Homo sapiens: one gene and its partner. The protein of the gene in region 2 interacts with the protein of the main gene of each other region in a pairwise test. Each region holds a gene or a part of one and is shown on either strand. Other genes may lie near its edges.

Region 1 (4,466 bases), on a different chromosome or scaffold from region 2:
AAATCCAAAAATTAGCCGGGTGTGGTGGTGCGTTCCTGTAGTCCCAGCTACTTGGGAGGCTGAGGTGGAAGGATCGCTTGAACCCAGGAGGCAGAAGTGCAGTGAGCCAAGATCACGCCACGACACTCCAGCCTGGGCGACAGAGGGAGACCCTGTCTCAAAAAAAAAAAAAAAAACGGAAGAAGAAGAAGAGGGAATTAAGATACCCCCCAAAATCATTAAATATAAACAGAGGCAAATAGTACGTCATTTGATAGACTAAAAAATACAAGCCCTATTTCTTTTTTAATTCCCTAGGTCTCTTCATTCATCCCTTCATCTTTCATTTATTTATTTATTTATTTATTTATTTATTTATTTATTTTTTAGAGACAGGGTCTTGCTCTGTCACCCAGGCTAGAGCACGGTGGCACGATCATAGCTCACTGTAACCTCAAACTCCTGGATTCAAGGCATCCCGTCACCTCAGTCTCCTGAGTAGCTGGGACTACAGGCGCACACTACCACATCTAGCTACCTCCTCATCTTTTCCAGATCTAAGCAATACAATGTTTTCTCCAGTAATTTTGACAATGCAGATTCCTAGGCCCAAACTCAGACTTACTGAATCAGATTCTGTAGTCAGAGCCTGGGAACCTGCAGTTTTAATAAGCACATCATTAGATCCTTACTTCAAAGCTTGTGGCCTACTGCTACAATAAATGGAAATACTGTGTGTGAAAAGTTCTCTGAACTATAAATCACTATTGAAAAGTCCTCTATCAACCAAGCATGGTGGCTCATGCCTGTAATTCCAGCACTTTGGGAGGCTGAGCAGGGACAATTGCTTGAGCCCAGGAGTCTGAGGCTGCAGTAAGTCATGACAGTGCCACTACAGCCTGGGTGACAGAGCGAGACCCTGTCCCCCTCCAAAAAAAAAGTCCCCTCTGATTAATAAGTAACCTAGAGTCTGACCCTCAGGCATCTGACTGAGTTCCAACAGGACAAGGACACATTCTCCTCAGAGTACTGGGGCCAGACCTGGTGGAGAAACAGGAAAGAATTCTTTTTTCTTTTAGAGACAGGGTCTCATTATGTTACCCAGGCTGGACTTGAACTCCTAGGTTCAAGAGATCCTCCAATCCCCTCTTAGACTTCTGAGTAGCTGGAACTACAGGTGCATGCCACTGCTCCCAGCTCAAAACAAGACGGGATTCTTTTTTTTTTTTTTTCTTTTTTTGAGACAGAGTCTCACTCTGTTGCCCAGGCTGGAGTGCAGTGGCATGATCTCGGCTGACTGCAAGCTCTGCCTCCCGGGTTCATGCCATTCTCCTGCCTCAGCCTCCCGAGTAGCTGGGACTACAGGTGCCCACCACGACGCCCCACTAACTTTTTGTATTTTTTAGTAGAGATGGAGTTTCACCGTGTTAGCCAGGATGGTCTCAATCTCCTGACCTCGTGATCCGCCCGCCTTGGCCTCCCAAAGTGCTGGGATTACAGGCATGAGCCACCGTGCCTGGCCGCAAGATGGGATTCTTAAATCTCGGGGGCCTGGCGCCAACAGCTAGCTTCCTTTTCCTTCAAGTCCCAGGGAAGCCAAAACCTCATCCAGTCAAGATGGAGTTCCAAAGAGTGGGTTCCATAGTTTCATAGCACAAAAGGGGTCTGGTATATTTTATGCAAAAGTGATGCTTTAAATGTTCAACTAAAACAACCCATATGTTAAATTTGCTTTCTCCACATTGTCATGGTGGACAGTGCTAGATTATTTATATTTCAATTCAGGTGGCACAACCCTCTCTAATAATCAATTGCACTAACCCCAGAGAAGCTGTCTGAAATACCTTTATAACAGAAGCTAACATTTACTGACCTCTTACTGTGTTCCATCAGTGTTGTTTATTTGTTTTGTTTTAAGAGATGGGGTCTCACTCAGTTACCCAGCCTGGAATGCAGTAGTGTGATTGTGATTAGAGCTCACTGCAGTCTCAAACTTCTGGGCTAAAGTGATCCTCCCGCTTCATCCTCTCCAGTAGCTGGGACTAGAGGTGTGTGCCAACACACCCAGCTACTTTTCAAATTTTTTGTTGAGATGGGTATCGCTATGGTGCCTAGACTGGTCCCGAACTCCTGGCCTCAAGTGATTCTTCCTCATCAGCTTCCCAAGTAGCTGGGATTACTGGTGTGAGCATCAGTGTTTTTTGTTTTGTTTTGTTTTTGAGACGGAGTTTCACTGTTATTCTTCCCCAGGCTGGAGTGCAATGGCGCGATCTTTGCTCACTCCAACCTCCGCCTCAGCCTCCCAAGTAGCTGGGATTACAGGCATGCGCCACCACGCCTGGCTAATTTTGTATTTTCAGTAGAGATGGGGTTTCACCATGTTGGTCAGGTGACCTCAGGTGATCCTGACCTCAGGTGATCCACCTGCCGCGGCCTCCCAAAGTGCTAAGAATACAGGCGTGAGTCACCGCACACGGCATGAGCATCAGTGTTTTTAAAATATATTATCTAATTTCATCTCACAACAACTTTTTGGGGTGGGTATTATTATTATTTCCACTTTAGGGATGAGGAAACTAAGGTGCAGAGAGGATAAGTAAATTAACTAAGGTCATACATGTGGAAACTAACACGTGAAAGTTAGAATCAGAGCTCTGACAGCTGGCCTTGCTGGCACAAGTTCTTACAGTAACTTGCTAACTTATACCATACTATCCTATCTGGCCTCCCAGGATAATATGGTGGTGTTGTAGACTCTGAGCACAGGAGGACTTGAGTTCAAATATGAGTTCACTGTATAATTATGGGCAAGGTATTTAAGTATCTCTAAATCTCAGTCTCCTCATCTGTAAAGTGGAGATAAGATATGTATTTCACATAGTTGGCAGGTGGATTAAATTAAATATCTGAGAGTCAGTGGGTGACAGAAAAGAAAAATAAAAGAAAGAAAATGACACACACGTAAGTACCTAGAACACTGCTAGGGCCTGTCCACTAAATGTTAGTTTCTTTCCTCTTTCAAAGTTTTACACTTAAACTCACACATATACTTACTGTAATGAAAACTTCTCTAGGTCTTTCCTCAGTAAAAACTGCTACCAATGTAATTCAAACAACACTTTGAAAAAGAAAATCTCAGCAATTTTGACTAAAGAGCTGAATACTAAGTAGAGGAAAAACAAACTATAGTTGCCACCCATCCACTCTTTATCAACATCCTACAGGATATTTTTATTTTGGCCTCATGTCATAACGATTTTTTGTTTTTTAAGGAGACAGTGTGTCGCTCTGTTGCCCATGCTGGTGTGCAATCGCTTGATCATAACTCACTGCAACCCTGAACTTGTGGGCTCAAGCAACCCTTCTGCCCCAGCCTCCCAAGTAGCTAGGACTATAGGCACACACCACCATGCCCAACTAACTTTTTTGTAGAGACCGTGTCCCACTATGTTGCCCAGGCTAATCTCAAACTCCTAGCCTCAAGCAATCTCTGGCCTTGGCCTCCGAAAGTGCTAGGATTATAAGCATGAGCCACCACACCCAGCCTCATGCCTTTTTTTTTTTTTTTTTTAAAGAGAACAAGCGGGCTGGGCACAGTGGCTCACGCCTGTAATCCCAGCACTTTGGGAGGCTAAGATGGATCACCTGAGGTCAGGAGTTCGAGACCAGCCTGGCCAACATGGTGAAGCCCTGTCTTTACTAAAAACACAAAAATTAGCCAGGCGTGGTGGCACATGCCTGTAGTCCCAGCTACTTGAGAGGCTGAGACAGGAGAATCACTTGAATCTGGGAGGTGGAGGTTGCAGTGAGCCAAGATCATGCCACTGGTCTCCAGCCTGGGTGACAGAGCGAGACTCTGACTCAAAAATAATAATAATAATAATCATAATCATAATCATAATCATAATCATAATCATAATATGTTCTGATGCTTGTTCTCTCTCTTTTTTTTTTTTTCTTGAAACGGAGTCTTGCTCTGTGGCCCAGACTGGAGTGCAGTGGTGCAATGTCGGCTCACTGCAACCTCCACCTCCCGAGTTCAAGTAATTCTCCTGCCTCAGCCTCTCGAATAGCTGGGATTTCAGGTGACCGTCACCATGGCTGGCTAATTTTTGTATTTTTAGTAGAGACAGGGCTTCACCATGTTGGTCAGGCTGGTCTCGAACTCCTGACCTCAGGTGAGCCACCCATCTCAGCCTTCCAAAGTGCTGGGATTACAGGCATGAGCCACTGTGCCCAGATTTTTTTTTTTTTTTTTTTTTAGACAGAGTTTCATTCCTGTGGCCCAGGCTGGAGTGCAATGGTGCAGTCTCAGCTCACTGTAACCTCTGCCTCCCAGGTTCAAGCGATTCTCTTGCCCCAGCCTCCCAAGTAGCTGGGATTACAGGCCCCTGCCACCACGCCCAGCTAATTTTGTATTTTCAGTAGAGACAGGGTTTTACCATGTTGGCCAGGCTGGTCTTGAACTCCTGACCTCAGGTGATCCT
Region 2 (5,432 bases):
GATAAAGACAGTACATCTATACAAAGTTTAACCTTTTCTTGAAGCTATAACAGTAACAATTCCCTCAGAAGTTACTGCTATCTTTAAGGCATTTTCCCCTCTGTATTAAATGGCCTCTTACATCGAGTTTTTCTTTCTCTCATTGAGTTTTACTGTTGACTACTTTTGCATCCTCTTCTCTACTGTTGCTTACATATCTTTCTTACTATTCCATAATCTTCTTCCTCTTTTCACTTTATTCTTGGTAGAACTGAATTATGATAAGGAAAAAAAAGTTCACACATAAAGCATAGTTTAGGCATAGGATTTTCAAATAATTCTAGTTTTTTCTCTTGGGAATAGTGTTGGCCTTCAGAACTGTAATGTAATGAAAAGTTGTGTTTCTAGAAATTTACCTGCTGAAATAAATGAAGTAATATTGTGCTAATAATGGCATCTATTAAAAGAAAAATTCATGCTCGTAACAAATATTTCACCAAGTATGATCAATACCTCTCCAGATATCCCAATGGATTCTTCTGCAGCTCCATACTGACCAATAGGCCCATTCTGCAGTCGTTCCAAAAGCTCCAATAAAGCAAAATTTTTTTTCAATCCCCAGACACCTGAATCACCTAGAATAAATATAAAAACAAAAACTAAATCTAACAAAATGGACTATTAATCATTTTACCCATACCTCAAAAGTAATTTCTAATATAGTTCAGTAGTTAATGTCTAAATTTTTAAAATTCAAATTTTCCCCATTTTTAATACCAAAATAATTGCTTTGTTAATGCTCTCTTAAAAAACAGAAGAATCCTTCAGCCTTCCAAGTAGAAACACACTTTAAAATTTATTATTTTTTGGCCAGGTGCTTTGGCCCACGCCTGTAATCCCAGCAGTTTGGGAGGCTGAGGCGGACAGATCACTTAAGGCCAGGAGTTCAAGACCAGCCCAGTCAACATGGTGAAATCCCGTCTCTACTAAAAATACAAAAATTAGCCAGGTGTGGCGTCAGGCGCCCATAATCCCAGCCACTCAGGAGGCTGAGGGACGAGAATTGCTTGAACCCGGGAGGTGGAGGTTGCAGTGAGCCAAGATCACACCACTGCACTCCAATCTGGATGACAGAGCAAGACTCTATCTCAAAAAAAAAAAAAAAAAATCTAAATACACATAAAAAAAATTATGGTGGTAAAGGCTGCACAACAATATGAATGTACTTAATGTCCCTAAACTTAGAAATGGTTAAAACGGCAAATTTTATGTTATACATATATTTTGCCACAGTTTAAAAAAATTATTTAAATCTCTTTTACTTTTTTTTTGAGACAGAGTCTTGCTATGTTGCCCAGGCTGGTGTGCAGTAGCGTGATCTCTGCTCATTGCAATCTCCACCTTCCGGGTTCAAGTGATCCTCGTGCCCCAGCCTCCCAAGTGGCTGGGACTACAGGTGTGTGCCACTATGCCCAGCTGATTTTTTTGTATATTTTGGTAGAGATGGGGTTTCGCCATGCTGGTCAGGCCGGTCTCAAAACTCCTGGCCTAAAGTGATCTGACTGCCTCAGCCTCCCAAAGTGCTGGGATTACAGGTGTGAGCCACCGTGCCCAGCCTATTTCTCTATCATTTAATTTTACAAGTCCTATTTTGTCATTGACTTTTACTATACATGCTAAAACAAGCATTTTCAAATACTTTTTGCAGCAACCTACCTTAAGAAATACATATAACATTGTAACCCAGGACAACATACACACTCTTCCTGAACCTATGAATAAAAGTCAGATCCTTTAGCAGAAGGAATATTTGTTATGGTAAACTCCTATGCAACAAATAACATCTGATATAGCTGCCACCTAATACATATTCATTAAATGAATAAATATATAAAAGGTTGATGGAGTCATTGCCTGCAGGGCCCCCCTTCCTCCTGGCTCTTAAAAAAAAAAAAGCCATTCTGTGTTGTGGTTCTCCCAAAAAAACTGGACTGAACATATCTATCCTCAGCCTTGCCCCTAGAAGGCTTTCTCCTTAATTTTTAACACATATTCTACAACAAGCTGAGTTCTATCTATTTACATAAAGGTTAAGAAGTACACTAAGTGATCATTTAAAAATATAGTCTTGACAATTTTCTAAATATCCAGTCACTATATAATGAATATATACAAATAAACCTCTAGCATTATTACTAGGTAGTGCCTAATATTTATATCACTTAATTCTGTGTCAAAACAACTCTATAATCTCAATGGCTTAACACAACAAAGATTTATTTTTTGCATCATGCAACATCTCAGGGATTAGGGAAGACAAGAGAGACTCTGTTCCCCACTGACCACAAACAGGGACACAGCCTACCGAGCCTCCAACCATCTGGACCACCTCACTGCAGCAAGGAGAAGAATTTACTTTGAAAATCATAAACCTTCTCTTATTAACTTCTACCTGGATGCTAACACTTCACTTCTGCTTACATTTCACTGATCAATGAACATCACACAGTGATGCGTAAGAGGGCAAGGAAGTGTAATTTCACCATATGAGCAGAAGAAAATCAGGAATATTGCTGAATGGTATTAATAACTACTCATATTCTTCTTGGACTAGAGAGAAATTCTGATTCAGGATTCAGAGAAGTCAGAGAGGAGGATGGATGTATTCAGTCTAGTTCCCTGTCATAAATTTCTAGTTTTGTTAAACATTGAGGATAGTAACTCTTCACATTGTGGTATTAATGTAGAGAAGGTAAAGTGCTCTTCAAAAAGGTAGAAGAGCCAGGTGTGGTGGCTCATGCCTGTAATCCCAGCACTTTGGGAGGCTGAGGTGGATCACTTGAGGTCAGGAGTTCGAGACCAGCCAGGCCAACATGGTGAAACCCCATCTCTACTAAAAATACACAAATTAGTCAGGCGTGGTGGCAGGTGCCTGTAATCCCAGCTACTCAGGAGGCTGAGGCAGGAGAATCGCTTGAACCCCAGAGGTGAAGGCTGCAGTGAGCTGAGATCGCGCCACAGCACTCCAGCCTGGGTGACGGAGTAACACTCTGCTTTAAAAAAAAAAAAAAAAAAAAAAGTAGAAGAAAGGTTCTATTCTCTATTTGAAAAACATTACTATTTCTTTAAGCATAGTTTTTTTGTTTGTTTGTCTGAGACCAAGTTTTGCTCTTGTTGCCCAGGCTGGAGGGCAATGGCGTGATCTAGGCTCACTGCAACCTCCATCTCCCAGGCTCAAGCGATTCTCCTGCCTCAGCCTCCCAAGTAGCTGGGATTACAGGCATCCACCACCATGCCTAGCTAATTTTTACATTTTTAGAAGAAAAGGGGTCTCACCATTTTGGCCAGGCTGGCCTTGAACTCCTGACTTCAGGTGATCCACCCATCTTAGCCTTGCAAAGTTCTGGATTACAGGTATGAGCCACCTCACCTGGCCTAAGTATAGTTTTATATAAAGAAATAGTATGATATATGCATATTTCACATAATAAAAGACCAAATAAAAGTACAGAGACTTTCCCAATCCCTATTATTTCTTGGCTACTGGTAAGTTAATGCTATCTATAATGTTATTACTGTCTATTAGTTGTCAGGCAAATAGACTATTTATATACATCAAAGATCACCAAAACCTTAAAAATCCTTTTCTTTCTCCAGAAAATATTTTAAAACCATGTTTCTTAGCATTTCAAAGTCTTCCAGCCTAAAATTATAGGTACTCTTGCTTCCTTTTTTGGTGGATAAATTATTTTGAATGTGTTCCACTTGAAAAATAGTATGAATATATTAAAACTGTCTTAGATAGTGCAACTGACCTGGAAAAAAAATGGCAACCTTAAACTCTTTTGGAGAAAACTCCCTTATCAAAAAGAGTAAACTTACAGAACTTACGTTTGTAAAATAACTGTTCAAATGTTAGTAAATGCTATTATTTCCAAATCTGGTATCTGAAAATAACTTAGTTTGAAATACGTAAAGAAAAGTTTTAAAAGTATACAGAAAACTGCAAAAAAAAGCCACAAACCCTTCAAACTCATTTTAACAGAAAATAAAGAGTAATTATCACAAGCTACAAACACTTCTGTCCTTGATATTAGTAAATAAAAACATGGTGAGACTCAAATGACTTATCTGTATTTTCATTATTGGCTTATTTATTTGTAAAGAAAACATTGTTCTATTGGGTTTATGGCTTCAGGCAAATGATTCACTCTGTGATACACATTCTTATTTATTTGAATCAGGGTAGCACGTTTTTCTCAGGTGTCTTAAAGCTCTTTACAGATAAGTATTGAATATAAACATCTCAGAAGATAAAATAAAATTAGTAACTAAGAGTGAGATAGTTTATAGCTTGAAGATTATTGACCTTAATAGAAACTTAGGCTTTCTGAAACTTTCTGGGAATTTTATCATTCTAAAAATCAAGTGGAAGGACATTGTTTCCTATGACATTTGCATTACATGAACAATTTTCAATCTTAAATCCATACAAATACTTTTCCTACCTAGGTCTGTTACTTGTCGATCAAATGGGCAACGGATTGCTCTTCCATGAAGAGGTAGGCGAGTGAGACAGTCATGACAGACGGTATGGCCACAAAGCAAAAGACGGGGAACTTTGTCTCCTTGCAAAGAAAAGACATCTTCACAAACTCCACACTCTAGCACCTAATATTTGAAAAGGAAGGATGTGCTCTTTAAACAATTTTAAAAGCATACATATTTTAGGTATATAAGAAAATTCACCTAATATATTGAATCAACATTGTTACTTTATTCCTCTATGAAAAAAAAACTATGTAGGTTGTAAAATCTTGAATCACTTTTAAGTCATTCCATTTGACCGACCCTGTCAAAATTATATCATAATGAAATATCTTTGAAATACTAAGTGTTGGGGCAAAGATGCTGTAAATTAACATCTTTGTTATCTTTTGAAAATTATGATTTCAGTCATTACATCTGAATCTGTACAAACAATATGTAATTCTACTGAAGGTGGGTTCTTAAGCAATTTCTCTGCAACTACCTAACCCATCATTAATTTCAACACAAATAAACTATCATTAATTTCAACAAAAATAATCTAAAATATGTACTGAGATAACAATTACCCCTGCAAATGATAAAGAACTTGTTAAGAAAAGACTGCAAGTAACTTTCAAGTATCTTCTACTATCTAATGTACATTAAATAATACAAAGGCAAAAAAAGCAATCATCTTAAATTTCAATTCCTGTTCTCTATCAATAAATATAGCTCTGAATTAGAAACTAGTTTGTCTTTCTAGCTCTAGTTACAGACACATGACTTGCACAAGGCTACACAGTCAGTCAAAAGAAAGGCCATTTATCAGCATATTCTGATTCTCAAGTCCATAAGTTTATGTTTTACAAATAGTCAACAAATTGTATTTATAGCAATAAAGCATTTTCAGCACTTATTTCTAA

What was found. The genes of interacting proteins can lie anywhere in the genome.
Region 1: the proteins of TRIM23 (region 2) and MORN4 interact in binary tests that used the Homo sapiens proteins (3 or more experiments, as listed by UniProt).

The regions. Positions count from the first base shown.
Region 1 is NC_000010.11:97,622,535-97,627,000, forward strand, and holds part of MORN4 (MORN repeat-containing protein 4), read right to left. Parts: intron 1-4,466. UniProt on the Homo sapiens protein: Plays a role in promoting axonal degeneration following neuronal injury by toxic insult or trauma.
Region 2 is NC_000005.10:65,613,606-65,619,037, forward strand, and holds part of TRIM23 (E3 ubiquitin-protein ligase TRIM23), read right to left. Parts: intron 4,651-5,432; coding exon 4,488-4,650; intron 615-4,487; coding exon 493-614; intron 251-492; exon of another isoform or gene 122-250; intron 1-121.